Linked DNA regions of Homo sapiens: region 2 is linked to region 1. A link means that fine-mapping ties the variant in region 1 to the expression of a gene that starts in the linked region. Tissue or cell type: lung. Region 1 holds a variant in brackets; the other region holds the start of a gene. All regions are shown on one strand. Distances are between the middles of the regions. Region 1 overlaps DTX1 (deltex E3 ubiquitin ligase 1). Region 2 holds the start of DTX1 (deltex E3 ubiquitin ligase 1).

Region 1 (8,329 bases):
ATGGCCAACATGGTGAAACCCCATCTCTACTAAAAATACAAAAATTAGCTGAGCATGGTGGTACACACCTGTAATCCCAGCTACTGGGAGGATTGCGTGAACCCGGGAGGTGGAGGTTGCAGTGAGCCGAGATCACGCCACTGCACTCCAGCCTGGGTAACAGAGTGAGACTCCGTCTCCAAAAAAATTAAAAAAAGAGAGAGATTTGAAAGCTACTGTTCTAGAGGAGGCTGAAAATTACTCAGCTTTCATGGCCTAGTGTTAATTCTCCAAATATGTGCTGTGGGTGTGTATTCACAGAGCTGAACAAGACAAACAAGGCCTGTGTCCTCCCGGGGCACACAGACAGATGGGGAGACAGACCTACAGCAAGCAAAGAGTAAATGAAGACGATCTCTGGAGTGAGACAGAAGTGCTGGGGAGGTAGTGGGACAGGGTGATGTGGGAATTCAGGGAAAATCCCTCTGAGGAGGTGGCCAGATGTGGAGAACAGCTGATCCATGCAGAGGGAACAGCATGAACAACTTCAAGGGGGCTCGAAGGGCGTGGTGTGTTCAGGGAAGGGCTAGAGGTGTGGGGAGGGCTGGAGTGAGGCGCCAGCAAGAAGGAGAAGGGCACCCCAGGCAGGGCATTGCAGGTGCAAAGGGGCAGAGGTAGGAATGAATCCAGAAGGTTCTGGAGACCACCGGGGGATAGAGGCTCCCTTCTGGAACAGTGGGGGCTGAGATTTTTTACCCCAAATGGGGGTACAAGGCCAGGTTGGGTGGCCTCAGGGAAGCCTGGGCTTGGTGCTGCCATCAGTGGGGAGCTATAGAGTGTGCTTGAGCTCTAGAGGGCTGTAGTGAAAAGGAAGTTTTCTCTTTGGGGGTGCGGATCATTAAACATGTCCTCCTCTGACCTGCCAGAGCTCTGTTGTCTCCAGCCACATGCCGCTCCCCCACAGCCGACATCATTTCTCCTGCCCCTCCCCTTGGGGACTGTTTCTGACCCTCCCTGAGCCCAGACATTGGCCTGGAAAACAGAAGATGTGGGGTGGGGGAAACTTCTCAAGAACTCCCTCATCCCTCCCCACCCACGCAGATGCTGCCCAGCCTCACTCCAGCCCCTCTAACTGATCCTCCCCAGCCAGACAAGCCCGGCTCAAAGTCCCCAACGCTCCATCTCCAAGAAACCCCCCGGGGAAAATCCCTCTGGCTCTCAAGACCCGTGGAGCCTGTTGCTGGGGAAGGGGAGTAGGAGGAAGGAAGATAGGGGTGGCAGACCCTGGCTTCTTCCGCCTAAAGCTTTCCATTGCTGAGACAGCTGAGGCCCAAGTGCAGCCTATGAGGGGAAAGGGATGGAGGTGGGGGGTCTTTGAGGAGCCAGGCAGACAGGTCTACCCACTGTCACTCTCGTCCCCAAACCACCTCCCAGCCCTCCCAACCCTGGTCTCTTTGTTTCTGTGTCTTTGTTTTTTGTTTTTAGAGACAGAGCCTCGCTCTTATTGCCCAGGCTGGAGTACAGTGGCGCAATCACAGCTCCTGGCAGCCTGAAACTTCTGGGCTCAAGAAATCCTCCTGATTCAGCCTCCCAAGTAGGTGGGACTACAGGCACGCACCACCACACCCAGCTAATTTTTTAAAATTTTTTGTAGGGACAGGATCTCACTATGTTGCCCAGGCTGGTCTCAAACTCCTGGCCTCAAGCATCCGCCTGCCTCAGCCTCCAAAAGTGCTGGGAATTATAGGCGTGAGCCACAGCGACTGGCCTGTCTCTATGACTTTAAGTCTGTATTAGTTTGCTGGGGCAGTGGTAACAAAGTAACAGCTTAAACCACAGAAATGTATTCTCTCTTTCACATTCTTGAGACTAGAAGTCCGAGATCACGGTGTCACAGGGTAGTTTCCTTCTGAGGCCTCTCTCCTGGGCTTGTAGATTGCATCTTTTACCTGTGTCCTCATATGGTCTTCCCTCTGTACCTGTCTGTGTCTTAATCTTCTCTTCTTAGAAGGACATCAGTCCTATTGGATTAGGGCCCATCCTAGTGACCTCATTTTATCTTAATTACCTCTTTAAAGACCCCGTCTCTAAATACAGTCACATTCTGAGGTCCTGAGGCTTAAGGTTTCAACACATGACTTCTTTGGGGCACAGTTCAGCCCATAACAATGTGTCTGTGTGTCTCTCCTTTTATAATTTACCAATACTTTTTTTTTTGAGACCGTCTTGCTCTGTTACCCAGGCTGGAGTGCAGTGGTGCAATCTTGGCTCACTGCAACCTCCACCTCCCAGGTTCAAGTGATTCTCCTGCCTCAGCCTCCCAAGTAGTGGAGATTACAGACACCTGCCACCATGACCGGCTATTTTTTGTATTTTTAGTAGAGACGGAGTTTTGGCATGTTGGTCAGGCTGGTCTCGAACTCCTGACCTCAAGTGATCCACCCACCTCGGCCTCCCGAAATTCTGGGATTACAGGCATGAGCCACTGCGCCCGGCCAATTTGCCAATAATTTTAATGGCAAAAACCACCATTTCTTTTGCACCAAACAATATCTCTGTGTGTCTTGGTCTTTTTCAGTCTTTCCATATCTCTTTGTAGCTCTGTGTCTCTCTCTCTCTTTCTCTGTCTTCTGCCTTTTCCTCTTAGTCACTCTCTTTCCTTCCCTGGCTTCCTTCTGTCCACCCTCCTTCTCTCCCCTCCTGGACCCAAACAGATCCAGAGCCCTTTACAGGTTGGGTGACCTTGGACCCACTTGAGGCTTGGCCTCTCTAGCCTCAGTCTCCCCATCTGTCAGACAGAGCTAAAACCACCACCTCTCACATGGGCAGACTCAGCAAGGATCAGCTTGCAAGGGAGGTGTGAACTCTGCAGAGATCTTCAATGTCATTCTCACCTCCAACCTCATCTCAGCCCTGGACGGGTAACAGCGAAGGAGGCCCAGAGAGGGGGATTGGCTCATCTAGGGTCACCCAGCCAGTGGGGGCAGAGTATCCACCTGGCCAGGGTTTTTTCCACTTGCCCCTGTAACAGACAGGGCGGGGAGCCAGCTGGCAGCCTGGGCCTGGGGGACCTGCGGGGGTGGGGAAGATCCGCCCTGTCCCCTGAGGGGTCAGTGTCCAGTGCGTTGGAACACAGCTGTGGAGCAGAGGAACCACACTCAGAGTTTCCACCCCACGTGGTGGGTGGGAGGACAGTGATAGCTGCGGGCCTATTTCCATTTATCGAGCGCTCCCTATGTCCCAGGCTCTCAATTTCATGGCTTTTTTGTGTGTGTGAGACAGGGTCTCACTCCGTCACCCAGGCTGGAGTGCAGTGGCACAATTATAGCTCACTGCAACCTCGACCTCCTGGGCTCAAGCAATCCTCCTGCCTCAGCCTCCTAAGTAGCTGAGACTAAAGGTATGCACCACCATGCCCGGCCAATTTTTTATTTTTGTAGAGATGGGCGTCTCACTATGTTGCCCAGGCTAGTCTCAAATTCCTGGGCTCAAGTGATCCTCTCGCCTTGGCCTCCCAAAGCACTGGGATTACTGGCATGAACCACTGTGTCTGGCCATTTACAGGCATGTCTCTCTTAATTCTCACAGATACTCAATGTGGCAGGTTCTATAATCCCCATTTTTCAAATGAGGAAACTGAGGCTCCAGAAGACTAAGACATTTGCACAAGGTAACACAATTAGGACTCAGATTCAAAAACCCAAGTTGACCAGCATATTGGGGATGCCCCATCTCCAGCCAGCCTGTACTGTTTTGGATCATGGTCCCAGAAGCCCCACCCTGATTCCTGTGTGACCCTGCCTGAGCTCATCTTCCTCTCTGGTCTTCAGTTTTTGCATC[T/C]GTGAAATGGGACTGGCAACACAGGCCCACATAGTCCATCATGAAGCCAGATGTCAAAGCACTTGGATTTCTCAGGCCCGTACCCTTTTTTTTTTTTTTTAGATGGAGTCTCACTTTGTTGTCCAGGCTGGAGTGCAGTGGCGAGATCTCCACTCACTGCAACCTCCGCCTCCCAGGCTCAAGCAATACTTGTACCTCAGCCTCCTGAGTATCTGGGACTACAGGCGCACGCCACCAACCCGGCTAATTTTTTATATTTTTTGTAGAGGTGGGGTTTCACCATGTTTGCCAGGTTGGTCTCCAACTCCTGACCTCAAGCAATCCACCCACCTTAGCCTCCCAAAGTGCTGGGATTACAGGCGTGAGCCACAGTGCCCAGCCAGGCCTGCTCCCATTTTAAATCCACCCTTGTCCCTCCCATCTCTATCAGATTTGTACAACATTGCCAAGCTGATAATTCCTAAAGAGACGTCATTTAAGTTTCCGTACCCTTGGTTCTTAGTTGAACCTGAGAACTTTTTCCTGTTTACTGGCCATGAGTGGTTCCTTCTTTTGCCAATTACTTGTGTATTTCTTTGGCTTATCCTTCCCTGGAGCTGTTTATTGCTTCCTTATTAATTTGCAAGTGTTCTTCCTGCATTAAGGGCATTAACCCTTTGTCTCCCATCTTTTCTGTAGTTTGCTGTTTCTTTTTCCTTTATAGCATATGTTCATCTGTTTTTTAATTAATTCATTCATATTTATTGAATAACTTCTGTGTGGCAGGCACTGTTTGGGGCCCTGGGGACACAGCAGTGAACTAAACAGACAGTCCTTGCTCTCTTGGAGCTCACATTCTAGTGGGAGACAAACACGAAACAGAATAAATTAATTGTAGAATATGGTAGAAAGTAGTAACTGCTACAGAGGAAAAATATAGGAGAGAAAGGATGTAGGGAGTGATGAGAAGAAAAGGCCTCATGGAGAAGGTAATACCTTCTTGAGCAAAGGTGGAAGGAGGTTAAAAAGCAAGGTATGGTCCAGGCACTGTGGCTCACACCTGTAATCCCAGCACTTTGGGAGGCTAAGGTGGGAGGATCACTTGAGCCCAGGAATTTGAGACCAGCCTGGACAACATAGTGAGACTCCACCTTTACAAAATTTTTTTAAATTAGCTGGGTGCGGTGGTGCGTGCCTGTAGTCCCAGCTACACAGGAGGCTGAGGTGGGAGGATCCCTTGAGCCCAGGTTGCAGTGAGCCAAGATCGAGCCACTGCACTCCAGCCTGGGTGGCAGAGCAAAACCCTGTATCAAGAAAAAAAAAAAAAAGCAAAAGAACTGGGGGAAGAGCATTCCAACATGCCAGACAGCAGAACAGCATGTGCAAAGGCCCTGAGGCAGAGTGGGTCTGGGGTGCCTGAGAAGGCCAGTGTGGTTGGAGAGGCTCAGGGCAATCGGTGGGAAAGAAGTAAGAGAGGAAAAGGCGCCAGGTCACACAGGGTCTGGAAGGTTGCGGTTAGGACTTTGGCTTTTGCTCTGCATGAGAAGGGAACCAGCAGGGCTGTGTGTTGGGAGAGACGGGTGGGACTGTTTTAACAGGTTCACTCTGAATGCTGAGCATAGACCGCAGTGGGGCTGAAGCAGGAGGCCAAGGGCAAAGGGACTTTGTTGTGGTGGGTGTGTTTTAGGGTTTTCCTTCCTTTTTTTTCCTTTTTTCTTTAAATTTCTTGCAGTGATTTTATGCTTTTATTTTTAAAAAATCCACATTTTCTTTCTCCAGATCTTCCATAAGTATTACATTTCAGGGGTTTGAAAATGTTAAAGTACTGACAGGTACACTGTGAAGTCAAGGACCCCACCAGGCCCCTGGCTGCCCACCCTCCCCCACTTTTCTGCCCCGCTAGCCACTGGTGTGCAGTGACTGTCACCCCGCCTCACCGCTGCTGCAAGGTCAAACCAAACACTCCCCCCACCCTGCCCCCCACCTGAAGCACTTCCTGCCCTGCTCCCTGGGAGACCAAACCACACACACTCCTGTCTGCACGTGGCTGCCCCGGGCCGTGGGAACAGCCGGTCCTGCCCTCCCCTCCCCTACCTGACCGGTCCTCCCTGCCCCCAACCATCTCCTCCCGTTCCTTCCCCCGCAGAGAGCTGGGCAGGCTGGAGGACCGGGAGGGTTGAAGAGTGACCCCCGCAGCCCCCATACCTCTAGATAAATCTGAGCCTCCAATACCACTCACACCTCAAAATGTCTCCCGAGGGGACTTTTACATCCTTTAATCTCTAGAACATGGAAGTAAGGGGTCTAGAAGACAGAAGTAAGGGGTCCCATTTCACAGAGGGGACACTGAAGCCCAGAGAAGCTCAGAGGTTTGTCTAGGCAGACGGAGGTGCTGGGGTAAGGAAAGGGGAAGTGAGGACCCCAGACAGCAGCTGAGGAGGAGTCCATGGGCACCTGGTCCCCCGGGCTTGCAGCGATGTCCTTCAAGTCTCTGCAGTGGGGGTGGCGGCAGGGACTTGGCCCCAGGCTGTGTTCCCCAGGACTGTGGGGGGAGGAGGGGGAGAAGGCAGCTATGAGGCAGAGACAGCCCTGAAAGTGGGGAAAGGTGACAGGCTCACACCCCTAGAAAGGAGAAAGGGAGAGGGTGGGGGGTCCCTAAAGCACTGTTCAACTTCCTTCTCCCCATAAAGTGACATCCTCACTTCTGCCCCCTCCTCACCCACTTGGCCCCAAATGACTGAGTCCTGAGGCTCCTGGGGCTCTTTGGGGTCTGCTGGGTAAGTGTGAGGTATCCTGAAGGGGGCCAAGGCCAATGGGGGACCTGGAAACTAGCATCAGAGAAAGTAACAAGTCTAGGCCTGCTGGGGGTGGGAGGGGAGAGATAAGGAGACCAGACTTTGGAGGAGGGAGGGGACTTGGCTGCCCTAAAGGGAGGGTCAGTTGTCAGTGTTTCGGGATCCTGGACCCCTCTAGGGGACAGAGAGAGGTGGCCAAAGCAGGCCAATGGATCCAGTTAGACAGCCCTGATCTACCCTGCCCAGGCCTGAGCCAGCTCCAGGATCCAGGTCAAAGACTTCAGCCCACCTGTAGAGCACAGAGGGCTCTCTAGGCTGGCTCAACTCCAGATGGCTCCACAGACCAACCTGGCAGGGTCAGCCCTGGCCCCTGACTCGGAAACTCCAGGACCCAGTGCCAGCTGCACCACCAACCAGCTGGGTGACCTTAGTGAAGTCATTTCCCTTCTCTGGGCTTCAGTCCCATCATCTGCAAAATAAATGACAAATAGAGTTCATCTCATGTGCCATCTCTGCTCCAGGGCAGTGACTTCCTGGAGCACTGTGTTGAGGAGGATTCTGAAGTTGCATCTTGGCTTAGCGGTAAGGCATGCCGAAATTGATTAGTAATGCCTGCTGTGGGTGCTAGGAGGACAGTAGTGGTATGCACTCATATATTTGACATTCCTGCTCTAACTTTGTCTGGCAGAAGAGGCGGCGTGGACCAGATCATACAGGGCCTGGTCATGCTTAAAGAGGGATAACATTAGGAGATATATCTAATGTAAATGATGAGTTAATGGGCGCAGCACACCAGCATGGCACATGTATACATATTTAACAAACCTGCACGTTGTGCACATGTACCCTAGAACTTAAAGTATAATTTTAAAAAAAGACTATAATGTCAGGTCGTGATTAGTGCTATGAAAAAAGAATTCAGTAAGGTAAGGACAAAGATGGGCTTTTTAAAAATAAAGTGGTTGCGGCCAGGCACAGTGGCTTATGCCTGTAAACCCAGCACTTTGGGAGGTCGAGGAGGGAGGACTACTTGAGCCCAGGAGGTCAGGTCCAGACCAGCCTGGGCAACACAGCGAGGCCCTGTCTCCTCAAAAGTTTTGTTGTTGTTGTTGTTGTTGTTGTTTAAGCTGGGTGTGGTGGTGTGTGCCAGTAGTCCCAGCTACTCAAGAGGCTGAGGTGGGAAGATCGCTTGAGCCCAGGAGTTCAAGACTGCAGTAAGCAATGGTTAAGCCACTGCACTCTAGCCAGGACAACAGAGCAAGATCTTGTCTATAAATAAATAACTAAATAAAGTGGTCGGGAAGGTGTCTCAGATAAGCTGACATTTGAGCAGAGACCTGTGCTAAGTGAGGGAGTGTGCCATGAGGATATCTGGGAAGAGCACCTTGGGAAAGGGTCAGCAAGTGCAAAGGCCCTGGGGTGGGAGTGTGCCTGGCATGCTTGAGAAAGAGCAGAGAGACCAGGGTGGCTGGAGTGGAGTGGGAGAGGGGTGAACACATAGGAAATGAGGTTCAGAGGGTAGATGGGGGCCAGATCAGGAGGCCAGGTGTTAACTGTGAGCAAAGTGGGAGCTGCAGGAGGAGTGAGAGCAGAGGACAGATGGGATCTGATTTGGGACTGGGAAAGGCAGAGAGGCTTGCATGGCAGTGGGGCCCATGCCTGCCTTCTGGTCAGAGTAGATTTCGGGGAGGGCCTGAGGGACTCCTCAGGTCCTGTGCCAGCCTGGGCCCCCAAGA
Region 2 (8,329 bases), 28 kb before region 1:
TGGCCCCAGGCTCACCCCTCTTCTTTCTCAGTGGTTACTTGGTCTCCTTTCTGTTGCTTTAACACACCAAGCGCTTTCCCACCTCTGGGCCTTTGCACATCCCTGTTTCCTCTGATTTAATCATTCCCCCTCCTACCCCACTCAGCCACATTAAGACCTATGAATCCTTCAGGGAGTGGCTGAAACATCAACTCCTCTGAAAAGCCCTCCCTGATTCCTTAGACCTGATAAGACCCCTGTTAGATGTCCTCACGATATCCTGTACTTTTCCCTCATAGTCTTTGCAAAAGTTTGGAATTAGACTTTGTGTGATTCTTGATTCATGTCCGACTTCCTCACTAGACTCTGAGACCCAGGAGGGCAGGGACCATGCTGCTGGTGTCAGCTCTCTATCTCAGCACGTAGCCCAGTGCCTGGCACATAGGAGGGCATCTGGTATTTTTTGGATGAATGGATGGATGGATGGATGGATGAATAAGTGGATAAGAGGAAGGAAGGGGCCGGGTGCGGTGACTCATGCCTGTAATCCCAGCACTTCGGGAGGCCAAGGCAGGTGGATCATGAGGTCAGGAGATCAAGACCATCCTGGCCAACATGGTGAAACCCCATCTCTACTAAAAATATAAAAATTAGCTGGGCGTGGTGGCACGTGCCTCTAATTGCAGCTACTTGGGAGGCTGAGGCAGGAGAATCACTTGAACCAGGGAGTCAGAGGTTTCAGTGAGCTGAGATTGCGCCACTGTGCTCCAGCCTGGTGACAGAGCAAGATTCCATCTTAAAAAAATAAAAATAAAAAGAGGAAGGAAGGAAGGAAGGGAGAGATGGAGGAAGGGAAGCAAGGAAGGTGGGAAATTTCATACATGAATGTATAGATGAATGGATGAATAAATGGATAGATGGATTGATGGATGGATGATGGGTGGGTGGGTGTATGGATGAATGGATGATGGATGAGTGGGTGGATGGGTGAATGACTGGATGGATGGGTGGGTGGGTGGGTGGGTGGGTGGATGGATGGGTGGAATGGATGGATGGAGGATGGGTGGATAGATGAATGGATAGACGGGTGGATGGATAAGTGGATGGTGGATGGCAGAACAAAAAAAATGAGTTGGTCTCTTTCTGCCATCTTTCTGAGCTGCTATAATGGTGCATGTGAACGTCCTGGCCAGTGTTCTCAATAGCATCAACATGCTGAGAAGAGAAGCAAATACCAGGTTGTTTTAGGTTGTGTTCCAAAATCATCATCTAGTTTCTAAGTGTGATGATGAAGTTTAGTTTACATCAGTGAATTTGCAATCATCAATAATCACAGAGCTAGAAAAATCACTGTGGACCTCACAGGCAGGTTAAACAAGTGTACAGTGACAAGCCCCAGTTTGATGTGCAACTCAAAGATCTAGAAAAATGGTACCCCTATCCCCTTTGGTTTCATTGTCCTGACAACCTCAGCTGGTATCAGGGATTGCAAGGAAGCAAGACAAAAATACACAGGAGGGAAAATCCTGGGATTGTTTTTCTAGGGATGTAATAAATTCATATGAATAAAATGCCTCAATGGACCAAAAAAAAAAAAACAGTTCATGATTGATTGCTTTTGCTTTTGTCCTATTGACTTCCCCATTGGTATCTGAGCCATCCCTCCCATGAATTGTGGGCTCCTTGGTGGCCAAATTCCTTCCCTCTCCTTGGAATTCTTTTCTCCCCAAGTTCCCTGGGAGCAGAGTGTTGCATTCCCAGATGTTCCAAACCCAGTTGAGAGGGGCCATTAAGGGCCACTCTGCACCAGATCCTCAGCTGGGTGCCATCCAGTAGTCACTCAACAAACACAGAGGCAGCATGGTGCTATGGGAGGTGCAAAAGCATTTGGGACTCAGACCCTAGCTCTGCCACTTACTCCTTGTGGGAACTTGGGTAAGCTACTTAGCCTTTCTGAGCTTCAGGAGGTTTTTTGTTTCCTTGTGTAAAATGAGGACAACATTACCTTCCTTGTGGGGCAGTTATGAAGAGTAGTAAGTATTATTTAAGTGCCTGGCACATAATAGGCACTCAGTAAATGACACCCTTATGTAATGGGGCACCAGCCACACCACACCAAGATGAATATGATGGCTATCTCACTCTAGCAGGGACAGATTTCATTTAAGAGGCTAATTGTGATACAGGGTGTCATGTCAAGGTATGGGCAAAGGAACACAGAGGAAGATGGGGTGAATTCAGGAAAGGCTTCCTGGAGGAGGTGACATTTAATCAGACCTTAAATAGCATTCGACAGGAAGTCCAGAGACACGAGTTCTTCTTTCCAATTTGCTGCTAAATCACCATGCGACCTTGAGCCAATCTCTTCTCCACTGTGGGATCCCCAGATCCTTCTACAACATAAGCTGGTTGAGCACCTGCTCTGAATCCGTTCAGTCACAGTCTCCTGTGAGAAGAATCTGCTGACAGCCAGAGCCCTTCTTCCCAGACATACAAGACACACAATGCCTAGACACACAAGTTTGCCTGTAATGGGAGAGGGGGACTTCATGGACCCCAGAAGGCCATCCAGGGACCCTAGGCTAAAATCCCAGAACTCAGTGATCCTGTGGGAGTATCGTCAGACTTGGCCCTGCCCTATGCAAAGCCTCTCTCTTTAGTCTACAGCAGGTGAAAGCAAGCAGAATCATTGACCCAATCTGAAAAAGCCCATCCAACACTGGGCTGCAGGTCAGAGCAGGGGCCTGGGGAGGGGAGGTCCCTCCAGCTGGCCGGAGAGCCAGAGCTGGATTCTGGGAAAGCACCCCTGAGCAGCCTGCCCCTGACCCTGCCTAGTGTATCCCCATCTGCCCCGGGGAGGCAGGCGTGGGCTGCTCTGGGCAGGCGCCCAAACAGGCCACTGACCCCCGTCAGCCACCCAGGCTGGAGTTCCCGGACGCATCCTTCATCTTCCCCAATCTAAACACCCCCAGGCCCCAGGTGGTCCACCCCCCTCCCAGCCAATGTGTGTCTCAGCCGCATCCAGCTTGCTGGAGGACAGGGGGACTGGCCATCCCGTTAACACTTGAGCCGCTGCCATTTCCAGCCTTCCCTTCCATCCAACCAATGCTCACCCACCATTTATTGAGCACCAGTTGTTTGCAGGTGGCTGTGAATGACATGGCAGAGGGCCTGCCCTTCTCTTCCTCCAGGATCTCACCTCCTGGCCAGGGTCCCCTCCCCTGGTCCCACCCCTCTCACCTGGAGCAGGTGGGTGCTTTGGGGGAAGTGGGCTCAGGGCTGGGAACTGGGTACTGGCAGGAGATTCAGATCGGGGTTGGTGTCTGGGCATCGCTCTAAGCTTTTGTGATCCTGGGCCTGGCTCTTACTCTCTCTGGCTTCAGTCTCCTCATCTGTACTCTTCAGATTCCACGGTTCCAACTGAGTCTGAATCAGGCCTTGTCAGCACCCTCCCACCCCCAGGAATAGTTAGAGGAGGAAAGGAGGCTAGCTCTGAATGCTTCAAGATCTTTCTTTAGACAGTCTCTGGATCTTATTCATTCATTCAAGCATTTATTGAGCACCTATTCAGTGCCAGGCCCTGGACTGGGAGACTGGAAATAAAGATGACAAAGATTCAAGCCGGTGACTCCTAAACATCCCACTCCCTGCCTCACGCTCTGCTTGGGGTCAGAAGGCCCCTTGGGGTCTCGGGAGGGCCTGGCCGAGGATTTGGGGCGCCCCGAGACTCGCGTGTCAGCGCCGGTGGCGCTCAGGGCCGAGATCTGTCTCCTCCCCTTCCTCCTCCTCCGCCCCCTCCCCTCTCCCTCCCGGAGCACGGCCGAGGCCTCCTCCCACCCGCGAGATCCCGGCGGCCGCCAGCCGGCTCCTGCGTCCGTCCGTCGGCCGGGCAGTCTGTCCACGCGCGGAAAGCTCGGCGCGGCGGCCGAGGGGCCTGGGAGGGAACGGGCGCGGAGGCGGGACCGCGGCTCCCTCCCACTCCGGGGGGAGCCCAGGAGGCGGCGGTGCTGGAGCGCGAGCCGGAGCCGGAGCCGGAGACGAAGAGAGGCGGTGAGAACGCGGGTGCTTAGGGACCCCACCCCCGGCTCCCGCTGGGGGCCCGCGAGCGGCTCGGGGACGTCTGGGCTGGGGAAGCGGGGCTGTTACCCCCAGGGCGGGAGGCAGAGACGATCCAGCTCCTGGCTTCGCCCCCTCCGCGACGCGACCCCCGAGGGGCCCTGGGCCGCGCCTGCAGCGCCGCGCATCCCCGTGCTTCCCGGCGCACCCCAGCGCACCCGGCATCCCCCCGGCAGGGCGAGGGCCCCGGGGGAAGGGAAGGCTCCGGGAGCCAAGGAGGGCGCCCCCCAGGCGGAGAGTCTCGGAAAACCGCGCCCCCGGCCCCTGCCTTCCCTCCAGGCCTGCCCCAAGGGAAAGCGGGCGGGGCGACCCCGTACGCCCCCCTTGCTGTCCCCCTTCGGTTCCCCATTGTTCTCAGCCGAATGCTCTCCTGGGAAGGGGGGAGGGGGTGCTGCGCTCTCCTCTTAAAGGGCCCTCTCCCCTCTTGTCTCCTGGCAGGTCGCGAGCACGAGTGGGGTGGGGCGTGCCCACGGGCCCCCGCCCCCCTCGTCCCCCTCGTCCCCCAGCCCAGCTCCGGAGCCGCAGTCCAGGCGCGCCGCCCGAGGGTCCACGCCGCACCCCTCCCCCGTGCGTTCTGCGGCCACCCAGGCCTTCCAGGACACCGTGGAGAGGGAACAAGGGGGCAGGGACGCCCCCTTCGGCAGGAGCCGTCGGAGAAGGGGGCCCAGACCGGAGGGAGGCGAGAAGCCCCACTGAAGCCGGGCGCAGGGTCTGGGACGCAGTTGGGAGTGCAAAGGGCTGGCTGAGAGCCGCAGGAGCAGCAGGCTGTGGCCCAGGCCTCCTGGGTGACAGGCCCTGTCTGGCGGGGAAGAGGGACCAAGAGACAACACGGAAGAGGCTGGACCTCGAACAGGGGCGGCTGCCTCACTCCCTACCTGAGCCAGCCGAGGGGGCCAAGGACTTTAGAGCTGTTTCCTCCGGCATAAGAGAGACACTTGCTTTCCAGGGCAGCACCCTTTATCGGAGAAGGCTCTACAGGGAAGGGGTCTTTGCAGCCTGGATGGCCATCCCACATTCCTTTAACGGAGGTCTCTAGGCCTCAGAGAGAACCCAGAGTTAGAAAGGAGGCCAGACGGTCCTTGCTGTCCCCCTGGGGAGAGAGGAAGTTGCCGCCTGCTGCCAGGCCCAGGAGGAGCTGGGCCTGCAATAGTGGGGGACCTGGCCCCTGAGGCAGTGGCGGCCATGTCACGGCCAGGCCACGGTGGGCTGATGCCTGTGAATGGTCTGGGCTTCCCACCGCAGAACGTGGCCCGGGTGGTGGTGTGGGAGTGGCTGAATGAGCACAGCCGCTGGCGGCCCTACACGGCCACCGTGTGCCACCACATTGAGAACGTGCTGAAGGAGGACGCTCGCGGTTCCGTGGTCCTGGGGCAGGTGGACGCCCAGCTTGTGCCCTACATCATCGACCTGCAGTCCATGCACCAGTTTCGCCAGGACACAGGTGAGCAGACACCCACCCCATGCCACCCGCCCCGCCGAGCCATCACTACCTTGCAGCGTAGGATGCTGAAAATCCCAGTAAATCTGCTGATGCCAAATCCCTTCCCCATCTCCCTGCCTCACCTCCAGAAAAACAGGGCAGTCTAACCTTGTCCAGTTTAAGACTTGGATTCCAATGCAGCCTCTGAGCAAGCTGTAGGGCCTTGAGCAAGTTGCATCATCTCTCTGAGCCTCAGTTTCCTCATCTGCAAAATGGGTAGATCAATATCTCTCACAGCTGAGTGAGGATTAAATAAAATTGTGCTCACTGAGCACAGAACCTAGAACAGCAGTAGCATGGGATTGTAGAATAAGGGCTTTACATGCACTTCCTCATTTGATTTTTCCCAAGAATCACAGGCAGTAAGTCTGTGTATTGTTGTATTATTATGAGTCCCATTTTATAGATGAAGAAACCGAGTCTCCCAGAAGCTGAGTGATTTAAACTCAGAGCTGGGATTTAAACCCAGGCGGTTGAGTTCCAGAACCAAAGTTCTTAACTGGTATCCTATACTGGCTCCAAGTGTTGGTTTGTGGGGTGGAGTCGTGCTGGTGGTAATTAATTGGGGATGGGGGGCGTTGGTGGTGTTGATGGTGGGGTGAGGTGGCAATGATGGAGGAGACAGTGTTAGCGGTTGTGTTGGTGGTGACTCAGTGATAGTATTGATGGTGGTGGGGTCTTGGTGACAATGGAGGGATGGATGATGGTGACGTGGCAGTGTTGGTGGTGATGTCAGTGATAGCGTTAACCATGGGATTCAGTGGTGTTGGTGACATTGATAGTTGTGTTGGTGGTGGTGCTGGAAGTGGTGTGATGGGGTGGTGATGATGGAGAAAATGAGAGAATGATGTTGGTGGCAGTCTTCGTGGCCATGTGGTGTGGCTGGTAGCCCTGTGTGTGGCTGTTACTTAGTGGTATTGGTGATCCTGTTGTGGTTGTAATGATGGTGATGTTGATGGTTGCGTTGGTGGTAATGTGATGGCTGATGATGGAGATAAAATCGATGAGGTCCCACTCTCAGGCCTACTCTCTTTTGTTCTGGAGATTTGTCATCGTTGGGGAGATCTCCCTGAGTCATTGCCCGGTGGTATCTGTGACAAGCTCCATGGGCAGTGGGGACTGGTGGGGTCCTGCCGTGCAGAAGCAGCCTAGAAATCCTTGGCATGTTTGACCCCCCAAGGACCAGCTGATGGGGTTTGGGGAAGTTCCTATGAATCCCTGGATGACAGAACCACACGTAATAACCCCAGGCTGGTAGGATGCTCGCTTTCCCTCTAGAGCTGTGCCAACCAATATGTTAGCCACCAACCACATGTGGCTACTTAAATTTACATTAATTAAAACTAAGTAAAATGTAAAATCCAGTTCTTCAGTCTCACTAGCCACACTTCAAGTGCTCATAGCCACATGTGTCTTGTGGTACCTTGTGGGCCAGTGTAGATCCAGAACATTGCATTGTTGCAGAAAGTTCTATTACACCATGCTAGTTAGAAAGGAGGCCAGCCTTTCTAACTAGCACAGTCCAATATAAGTTTCTGCAATGATTGAACTTTCCAATAGTCCGGAACATTGCTAGGTACCCACAGAGTGCTTACCATGTCTGGAAACACAGGCGAATTCATAACAAATGGCTTATTGATGGTACAGATTAGTACATCTATGTTTCCGTAACTCCAGGCATTGACCACCATCACTGATGGTGCCAATTGTTCATGCATTCCATCATATGATTATTTATTGATCTCTGCTGTGTGTCAATTTCTGTGCTAAGCACTGGAGTACAGCAGGGAGCAAGACAAAGTCATCAGTCGAGGTCTTGTGCTGGAGGACCTACACTGAAGGTCCTGGTGTGGTCAGGGAGCAAGCAAACATATCACCACAGAGACAATCAGTGGCAGATCCGAGAGCATGAACTAAACCTGGCCCAGAGGTACTCAGGGAAGGCTAGCCTGAGAAAGTGATGTTTGAACAGAGATCTGAAGAATGAGTGAGGGTGCCAGTGTCCCAGGCAGAGGGCACAGCCAGTGCAAAGGCCCTGGGGTAGGAAGGGGCAGAGGACATTTAAGTCCGTTCTGTTTGGGATGCATCTCCCACCAAGGGGAAGATGGTGCAAGATGGCAGCTGAGCAAGGACCGGATGTACAGGCCTGGACAGCCACGCAAAGAACTTTGAATTTGATCCAGAGAGTAGAAGTCATCATTAGCTCCATGTGCCCATTCTTCCAGAGAGGCACCAAGGACCTGATGGAAGAAGGGGAAGTGTTGCACATTACCCGCCCCATTCTGTTTTCTCCTAGGGGTAGAGGGCAGGGCTGTGAGAGCAGAAGTGGGTAGGTGTCACTCCTTGCTAGGAGGTCTGGTGTTCTGCAGGTTCAGAGCTAATGCTGGGTGTAGAGATCTTCCGGGACCTAGCTGGGTTGGGTATGGGCGGCAGGGTCCTTAGAAGCAGGGACAGACTCCCCACAAGGCTGCCAAGTTGGCAACTTTACCTTTGATCCTCTTATCTTTGGGGGGACCCCCATTTCTATTCCCAGCATCCCCTTATGTTCCCGAGTCCCCAGACTTGCACACTCCCCTTTCATCAGGCCCCATTCTCTCAATAGTACCCCTTTTATGGTTCAGCCTCACTGGATCCCCCAGAAGTTCAGCTCTGGTCACTTCCCCTCTCCCTCTCTCCAGAGCTGTTCACTCCACACCTGCCCCCTGTTTGCCGGAAAAGGGAAAAAAAACACTCATTCCTAAATGGACTCCTGGG

The links.
Region 2: it holds the start of DTX1, and the variant in region 1 is fine-mapped to the expression of DTX1 in lung (TOPMed, PIP 0.95).

What each region holds. Positions count from the first base shown.
Region 1 is chr12:113,081,150-113,089,478 of GRCh38, forward strand. The region is part of intron 3 of DTX1 (deltex E3 ubiquitin ligase 1); the gene reads left to right. Among named protein-coding and RNA genes, the nearest start is that of DTX1, 29 kb to the left of the region's middle. RefSeq lists enhancers at 1,553-1,612, 1,643-1,752 and a silencer at 5,675-5,764. The variant T/C (reference allele first, on the strand shown) is at 3,820.
Region 2 is chr12:113,052,916-113,061,244 of GRCh38, forward strand. DTX1 (deltex E3 ubiquitin ligase 1) reads left to right here and starts at 3,815. Exons shown (of 10, transcript NM_004416.3): 1 at 3,815-4,029; 2 at 4,534-5,536. The coding sequence starts at 5,278. It also overlaps the pseudogene RPS15AP32. RefSeq lists an enhancer at 5,053-5,841.